Regions from separate parts of the Homo sapiens genome. Here regions 2 and 3 are each linked to region 1. Evidence: fine-mapped expression QTL. A gene starts in region 1. Each other region holds a variant in brackets. All regions are shown on one strand. Distances are between the middles of the regions.

What was found. PIP is the estimated chance that this variant, and not a neighbour inherited with it, causes the effect.
Region 2: its variant is the best candidate, but not a certain one, in a credible set for the expression of IFITM2 in fibroblasts (GTEx, PIP 0.62).
Region 3: its variant is the best candidate, but not a certain one, in a credible set for the expression of IFITM2 in blood mononuclear cells (TOPMed, PIP 0.70).

Annotation. Positions count from the first base shown.
Region 1 is chr11:306,435-308,934 of GRCh38, reverse strand. IFITM2 (interferon induced transmembrane protein 2) reads right to left here and starts at 1,119. Exons shown (of 2, transcript NM_006435.3): 1 at 497-1,119. The coding sequence starts at 742. RefSeq lists enhancers at 1-78, 459-878.
Region 2 is chr11:353,432-356,283 of GRCh38, reverse strand. No RefSeq gene overlaps it. Among named protein-coding and RNA genes, the nearest start is that of B4GALNT4, 15 kb to the left of the region's middle. RefSeq lists silencers at 1-159, 2,628-2,794 and enhancers at 1-407, 1,594-1,883, 1,389-1,965. The variant G/C (reference allele first, on the strand shown) is at 1,528.
Region 3 is chr11:349,054-351,905 of GRCh38, reverse strand. No RefSeq gene overlaps it. Among named protein-coding and RNA genes, the nearest start is that of B4GALNT4, 19 kb to the left of the region's middle. RefSeq lists a cis regulatory region at 615-1,091. The variant G/A (reference allele first, on the strand shown) is at 1,326.

The sequences.
Region 1 (2,500 bases):
TCCTCCCTGCCCTGAGATCAGGGACCACCTCCTCCCCTTCCTCACCCGGCTCAGACTCTCCAGGAGCCTCGGGGCTCATCCTCCTTCTGCCTTGGCCCCAGCACAGGCTGTTCTCCCCACCATGGGGTGAAGTCACCTGTGAGTTCCCTTCTCACTTTCTGGGAGAGCCTGGGTGCCAGTCTGGAAGGTGAAGGTGTAATTTCTTACTGGGCTATAGGGAGAACTGCTCTGGGCTAGTGGATAGCCGGGGACAGACTCTGAGCCAGCCAGCCAGCCTCCTGGAGCCTCCTCCTAGACCTGCACTGGGCAGATTCCCCAAGCCACACACACACACAGATCACACAGACAAAGCCACTGACGTGGGCACACACAGGACAGACGTGCACACAAACTCACAGTCACAGGGACACACAAGTCCCCACCCCAGGCAGCATGTGGGCAGGTGGAGCCCCAGGCTCACCGGCACCCCCTGGATTTCCGCCAGGGCCATACGCACCTTCACGGAGTACGCGAATGCTATGAAGCCCAGGCAGCAGGTGTTCATGAAGAGGGTGTTGAACAGGGACCAGACCACATGGTCAGGCACGGAGGTCTCGCTGCGGATGTGGATCACGGTGGACATCGGGGGAGCAGGGTTGTGGGGCACCCCCAGCATAGCCACTTCCTGCTCCTCCTTGAGCATCTCGTAGTTGGGAGGCTGGCCGCTGTTGACAGGAGAGAAGGTTTGCACAATGTGGTTCATGGTGACCAGCGGTGATCGGGTTACCGGGATGGTTCTCAGTGAGCCCTCCCTTTCCCCAGTAGTTCCGTTTTCTCAACAGTTTCCTCTTCCTGGCATTTGTCAAATGCAGAGCTGGCCAGGGCCAGATAAGGGCAGAACAAATTCCTGAGGATCAAATTACTTTAGGAGAGGGAGGAAAGAGGGGCTGAGGGCTAAGAGGGGCTTCCTCTCTAGAGCCCAAAGGAGCACAAGTCTCATCTTGTTAGTGGTGTGGGGTCCTGGAGACTTCCCCTGTGTTGGGAGTCTCCACACCCCAGGCCAGCAGCTGCAGGACCTCACTGTCCCGGTTCAGGGCTCCTGCCAGGCCTGCGCTGACGCCTCCACACTCCAGGCCCCACAACCGTTTCCCCAAAGCCCTCACCTCTGCCGGGCGCCGTGGCTCACGCCTGTAATCCCAGCACTTTGGGAGGCTGAGGTGGGAGGATCATGAGGTCAGGAGATCGAGACCATCCTGGCTAACACGGTGAAACCCCGTCTCTACTAAATATACAAAAAAAAATTAGCCGGGTGTGATGGCGGGCACCTGTAGTCCCAGCTACTTGGGAGGCTGAGGTAGGAGAATGGCGTGAACCGGGGAGGCGGAGCTTGCAGTGAGCCAAGGTTGTGCCACTGCACTCCAGCCTGGGCAACAGAGCCAGACTCCGTCTCAAAAAAAAAAAAAAGCCCTCATCTCACTTGTCACAGGCCTCATCTGCTGACATCCCTTGTCCTTTGCTGGGGTTGCAGTCCTGCTCCATGCGGGTTTGGGGGTTAAAGGTCCCCGTGTCTCCTGGTGCAGGTCAGAGGGTTGGCGGCCAATGTTGCCTGCCCCAAAGGAGCCCTCCAGGCCCAGGAAAGGGGACTCTGGGAGCACTGACAGAAGAGGGGGCTGTGGGATGCCAATAGCAGAGACCTGGACGGTGGAGTTAGAAGCCATGGCCCTTTCCCCTGGAGGCCCACCTGGGTGACGGCTCCCAGACCCGCTCCACACAGCCCAGCAGCACCCACGCTGCCCAGAGCTCTGGCTGGCTGGTCCCTGGGGCACCCTCCAGATTTCCAGGTTCTGATCATCTCTGCCTCTTCCCTGGGTCCTCACACGGGTGCCAGCTGCTTCCTGTAGTTGCCGCCTGTTTTTCCCATGAACCGGTGCTGCCTCTGAGCAGCTCCTGAGGTTACAGCCTCCCTGTGGAAACACCTTGTGTGGCCTCTGGGCTTCTTCCTGGACCTTCCTTGGCAGAGGCTATTGCAGCAAACAGAGCTGATGCTGTGCACTTGAGCTTGTCAGAGGGGACAGTGCGGGTCACAGGGGCAGGAACGTGGCCTGCAGGCCTATGTGCACCGCGACCTGCGCCCTGTTTAATTCCTGATGTGCTACATGGGCCCATTTTCCTGGGCTTATTCTCCCACCAGGCCAGACTCCGCAGAGGACATCGCTGAGGGTGGAATTTACAGAGATGGGCAGCTGCTCACCCTGCTGTAGCCTTTCACCTCAGCGGGTGGTCAGGTCCACGTCAGTATTCCAGAGTTTACATGACGGTAGCGTGCAGCCGTGTAACTGCAGAGTGATGTGTTTGAGTAACGATGACTTTGGCTCTATAAGATAAATTTTATTGATAATTTCTAAGATTCCTAAGATTTAACTTTAACAATGGCTGTGTCTACCATCGACTCACAGTGCTTCTCGACGTCGAACACCCTAAGTCCTCCTCCTTCTGCTGGCTGGGGTGAGCTCTAAGGGCT
Region 2 (2,852 bases), 47 kb before region 1:
TGGAGGAAGGGGCTCTAGACGGGGCGGGGCGCTCCTCCGCGTGCTGCGTGTCTGGGGGCCCGAAACGCAGACCCGCCCCCCCACCGTTGGAACGAGCCCCCCCACCGTTGGAACGCGCCGCCCCCCCCTTCCCCCGCTCCAGGCGGCTCCCTGGAGAGCAGCTGGGAAACGCCCCACCCCCATCCATTCCTGGCCGCGCTTTCAGGGCTGTTTTCCTCGGGCTGGGAAACGCCCCGCCCCGTTCCATTCCCGGCCGTCGGTTCGGGAATGTTTTCCTGGCGCACAGCCCTGGGAGGCCTCCCGGGCGCCGAGGGCAGCGCTGGTCACCGTCCCGCGTGGCAGCCAGTGTCTGGGGGCAGAGTGTCCAGGAAGCTGCGCCCCCGGGCTCGTGTCCTGCCGCCACTCACTGCGTGGCACGGGTCCCCGGGCCCCTCCAGGCCTTCTGCGGGAGCTGGGGCTTGGGAAGCCGCCGCAGAAGCGGTTCCCTTGGCCACCTCCCTGCCTGAGAAGTCAACCGTCCTTGCCTCTGACCCAGGGGCTCTGTCTTCTGTTGGCCTCCGGGGATCTGTGGCCGGTTCACCCCCTAGCTGGCGAAGCTAGGCGTTTGAACCAGAGCAATTCCATCTTGATTGGGAGCTGGGTAAAATGAGGCTGAAATCCACTGGGCAGCATTTCCAGACGGTGGGAGCTCAGACCCTGCCCGTTTGTGCACAGGAAGCACCCACCGGGCTCCTGAAGTCCACGCGAGCTCCCTTCCCTGAGCTCCAGGCCAAGCTTGGAGTTCCCTCCGCCCCTTAGACCTCAGGCCGACTCGGCTTCCAGAATGCCATCCTCCCTGGACTGCAGTTAAATTAACTTCCTGTGTTCTGAGCCATCTGTTCCCTTCCTACCCTGTTTTCCACCCCAAATTGTTCTTAACCCCATTATTCAGGGCATGTGATAGTGTGGGCGGAGGATTACCCAGGTGCGGAGGCAAAAGACTGAAGGCACATGGCGGGCGCCTGTAGTCCCAGCTACTCGGGAAGCTGAGGCAGGAGAATGGGGTGAACCTGGGAGGCGGAGCTTGCAGTGAGCCCGGATGCGCCACTGCACTCCAGCCTGGGCGACAGAGCGAGACTCTGTCTCAAAAAAAAAAAAAAAAAAAAAAAAAAAAAAAAAGACAAGGCACAAACTTTCAGTATAATAAAGAGAATAAGAATAGTTATAATACAAATTAGAGATGATCATGGACATATCAATCATTAGTATAAACATTATTAATCATTAGCTTTTATCGTGGACATTATCAATCAGTATAAACATTATTAGTCATTAGCTTTTAATATTTCTCTTTGTGGCATTACTAATATAACCTAGGAATAACCGGCGGGTATAGGGTCAGGTGCTGAAGGGACGTTGTGAGAAGTGACCTAGAAGGCAAGAGGTGAGCCCTCTGTCACACCAACATAAGGGCCGCTTGAGGGCTCCTTGGTTAAGCGGTAACGCCAGTGCCTGGGAAGGCACCCGTTACTTAGCCGACCGTGAAAG[G/C]GAGTCTTCTTTCCTTGGAGGAGTCAGGGAACACTCTGCTCCACCAGCTTCTTGTGGGAGGCTGGATATTCTCCAGGCCTGGCCCGCAGTCATCCGGAGGCCTAACCCCCTCCCTGTGGTGCTTGAATGATCACACTCCTTGTCCACTTTCATGCTCCTCCCTTACTCCTGGTTCCTCTTTGAAGTTCTTAGAAGATAGCGGTAGAAGAAATAAAGTCTTTGATCTTTCTTTCTTTCTTTTTTTTTTTCTTTTTTTTTGAGACAGAGTCTTGCTCTGTCGCCCAGGCTGGAGTGCAGTGGTGCGATCTCGGCTCACTGCAAGCTCCGCCTCCTGGGTTCACACCATTCTCCTGCCTCAGCCTCCCAAATAGCTGGGACTACAGGCGCCTGCCACCATGCGTGGCTAATTTTTTGTATTTTTAGTAGAGACAGGGTTTCACCATGTTGGCCAGGCTGGTCTTGGCCACGTGACCTCAACTGATCTGCCTGCCTCGGCTTCCCAAAGTGCTGGGATTACAGGCGTGAGCCACTGCGCCCGGCCGTCTTTGATCTTTCTTAAAAGTGCATAGAAGAAAACGCTGACGTATGCTGCCTTCCCTCTCTGCTCCCGCTACCTGTAAGGGAAGGGCCCCTGTCCTATGGTCACATGACTTGCTTGACCTTATCAATCACTTGGACAACTCACCGTTCTTACCCTGCCCCCTTGTCTTGTATGCAATCAATATCAGCGTGCCCAGCCATTCGGGGCCACTACCGGTCTCCGCATCTTGGTGGTAGTGGTTCCCCGGGCACAGCTGTTTTCTCTCTATCTCTTTGTCTTGTGTATTTATTTCTTCCGGTCTCTCGTCTCCACACACGGGGAGAACACCCGCCAAGCCCCGTAGGGCTGGACCCTCCATGATAGAAGTCATGCTTTTAATCAAATGCAACCAATTCAGAATGGCAAATTAGGATATATACCCTTTCCCAAATCCAGTATCCCAGGAGAAATTACGGTACGGTAATTAATCCCCCTCCTCCCGCCAAGCTAAACCTCAGAGAAGTTGAAGTTCTAAAGTTCAAGTCCAAAAATACTGGGAAGGGAAAAACAAACAAAAAAACCGAGGAAACAAACATCAGGGAAAAACCCAGAACCTCGTCATGAAAATAGTGTCCTGTCGCTCTGTTTCTGATTTGCAGCTCACAGCTCGTGTTTCACCCCAGCCTCTGGGGCCGGCTCTGTGCCTGGCCTGAGGCCGATTCACTGGCTCAGTCCACAGAGTTGGGCCTGGCTTCCTGCCCTGGAAACCAGTCGAAGGTTCTCCATAGGAACCTGCCGGGCAGAC
Region 3 (2,852 bases), 43 kb before region 1:
ATCTCCTGACCTCGTGATCCGCCCGCCTTGGCCTCCCAAAGTGGTGGGATTACAGGCGTGAGCCACTGCGCCCGGCCAACTTGCTTTCACTTTATGGACTCCCCCTGATTTCTTTCTTGCATGAGATCCAGGAACCCTCTCTCGGGGTCTGGATCGGGACCCCTTTCCGGTAACATCTTTCTGGCGACCACAGAAGAAAAACTGCAGACTCAAAACCTAGCGTTGGGTAGGTGACATATCTCTGGTGACCTCAGGAGGGGCTCCAGTGCGGAAACCCCCGACCTAAAGGCTAACTTTGGGTAAGTAGTGGGGTCCGGTAACATCTTTCTGGCAAACCCTGAAGGGACAATACTGAGGAGGAGCCCCCGACCCAAAGGAAATAGACTCGGCCCTGACTGGACGACGCTGGGTAAGTGGTGGGGTAGCCGGCGAAGGATGGGATTGGGTGAGAGGCCCACTTAGGGGAGTTAGGGTCTGTCCTAAGACAGAGAGGGTGAAAGCCCACTCTTAATACAAGGCAAGGATGCTTGACCCACCTTGGGTTAGAGACCCACCTTAGGAGGGTTGGTTAGGGTCCCTTTTAAGATTTAGGGGCTTAGAGAGCCCCCTCAGTAAAGTCCCTCTCAGAAAAGTCCCTCTCGGCTGAGAACGGGTTCGGCACGAGGGGACGTTAACGGCTATTCTCTTTGGGTTAATCTGCCTTGCACTCTCTGCTGACGGCTGTGGGTGACAGGATTAGGCACGTACAGGATCGTGGAACATGGGGAGCTTTCTCCTCTCGCAAAAGGGGAACCTGAGAGCTGATGGGACTGCCGGAAAAAGTCCCTTCCCAACAGCAGCCGCCTGAAGTCCTCAGGGTTCCTGCAATGGGCGGGTCTTTCTCTGGCCTCCCTGAGCATTTTGCCTTCCCCACCCTGCCTCAGGCGATGCTTTTCTCTCTCTCCTTTCTCTTTTTTATCTTTTCTATCACTTGGGGCAACCGACTTGCCCAGAGAACACGTGTTGAAACTTGTGGTTGGAGGTTGGATTAACGATGACCGGAGCAAGTTTGAGCCTTGCCAGTGTGATGTTAGGTGCTAAGCAGAGTGGCTGATGTCTCTGTTTTCTCACACGTATTTTGCCCTGGCCAGAACGGAAAGAGGTAACTTCCTTTGTGCTGCAGCTTGGCCCCCAGGGCTGTGGTACAGCCAGTCGTAAGGGAGGAGACCACCCCTCACATTGTCTTATGCCCAATTTCTGCCTCCAGAGAAAGAAGTTAAAAGGCAGAAATGAAATCCACAAGCAGACAGCCCAACGCCACACCCTGGGCCTGGTAGTTAAAGATC[G/A]ACCGCTGGCTGATCTAATCGGTTATATTACCTATAGATTCCAGACATTGTATAGAAAAGCACTGTGAAAACCCCGTCCCGTCCTGTTCTGATTACCGGTGCATGCAGCCCCCAGTCACATACCCCCTGCTTGCTCAATCGATCACGACCCTCTCACGTGGACCCTCTTAGAGTTGTGAGCCCTGAAGAGGGACAGGAATTGCTCACTCGGGGAGCTCGGCTGTTGAAGATTTGACTCTTGCCAAAGCTCCCGGCCGAATAAAGCCCTTCTTTAACTCGGTGTCTGAGGGGTTTTGTCTGCAGCTAGTCCTGCTACAGTTGGGTCACTAGGGCCCCCCAGGAAAAGAAACCCAGAAATCTGTCATGCTGGCACAAGTGCAAGAACTGCTCACCAGTCAGACTTCTGTCTCTGTGTGTGTGTGTGTGTGTGTGTGTTGTGTGTGTGGGTGTGTGTATGGTGTGTGTGTGTGGGGTGTGTGTGGGTGTGTATGTGGTGTGTGTTTGTGGTGTGTGTGTATGGTGTGTGTGTGGTGTGTGTGTGTGGGGTGTGTGTGGGTGTGTATGTGGTGTGTGTTTGTGTGTGGTGTGTGTGTGTGGTGTTTGTGTGTGGTGTGTGTGTGGTGTTTGTGTGTGGGGGGTGTGTGTTGTGTGTGTGGTGTGTGTGTGGGTGTGTGTGGGTGTGTGTGTGTGGGGTGTGTGTGGGTGTGTATGTGGTGTGTGTGTGTGGTGTGTGTGTATGGTGTGTGTGTGGTGTTTGTGTGGTGTTTGTGTGGGGGGTGTGTGTTGTGTGTGTGGGGTGTGTGTGGTATGTGTGGTGTGTGTGTGTGAGGTGTGTGTGTGCGTGTGGTGTGTGTGTGGTGTGTGTGTATGGTGTGTGTGTGGTGTGTGTGTGGTGTTTGTGTGTGGTGTGTGTGTGGTGTGTGTGTGTGGGGGGTGTGTGTTGTGTGTGTGGGGTGTGTGTGGTATGTGTGGTGTGTGTGTGTGAGGTGTGTGTGTGCGTGTGGTGTGTGTGTGGTGTGTGTGTGGTGTGTGTGGGGGTGTGTGTGTTGTGTGTGTGTGTGTGTGTGTGTGTGTGTAAACTGGACGAGGCTTCCCTCTGGTCCGTCATGTCCTTGGGACCTTGGCCTTGTAACCACGTGGCCGTACTTTCTCTTGGTTTCTGCCATCATAATGGCGGCCCGGGTTCAGGGTTCAATTCCCAGCTTAGGGGATGGGTCTTTAACTTCTGTTTGTCTGTGTTTTTGTACATGTTGTGTGTGGAATATAAAAGAGCTTTAATTAATTGGTTTAATAATAAGAGCTTAAATAAAAAATTTTGTCAGAAAAGTTAAAAGTGCAATGCTTTTTAGTTCATGTGACTTAAATAATCTTTGGGAAATAAAGACAGTTTTAAAGATTATTGGTAAAATAGAAATAGCTTCAAAAATTTAAAAATTTGGTCCAAATAATGCATGTCAGATATTAAGTTCACTAAATGCAAACAACACAACTGATGAGACTAGAATTTAATAACACATGTACCATAGT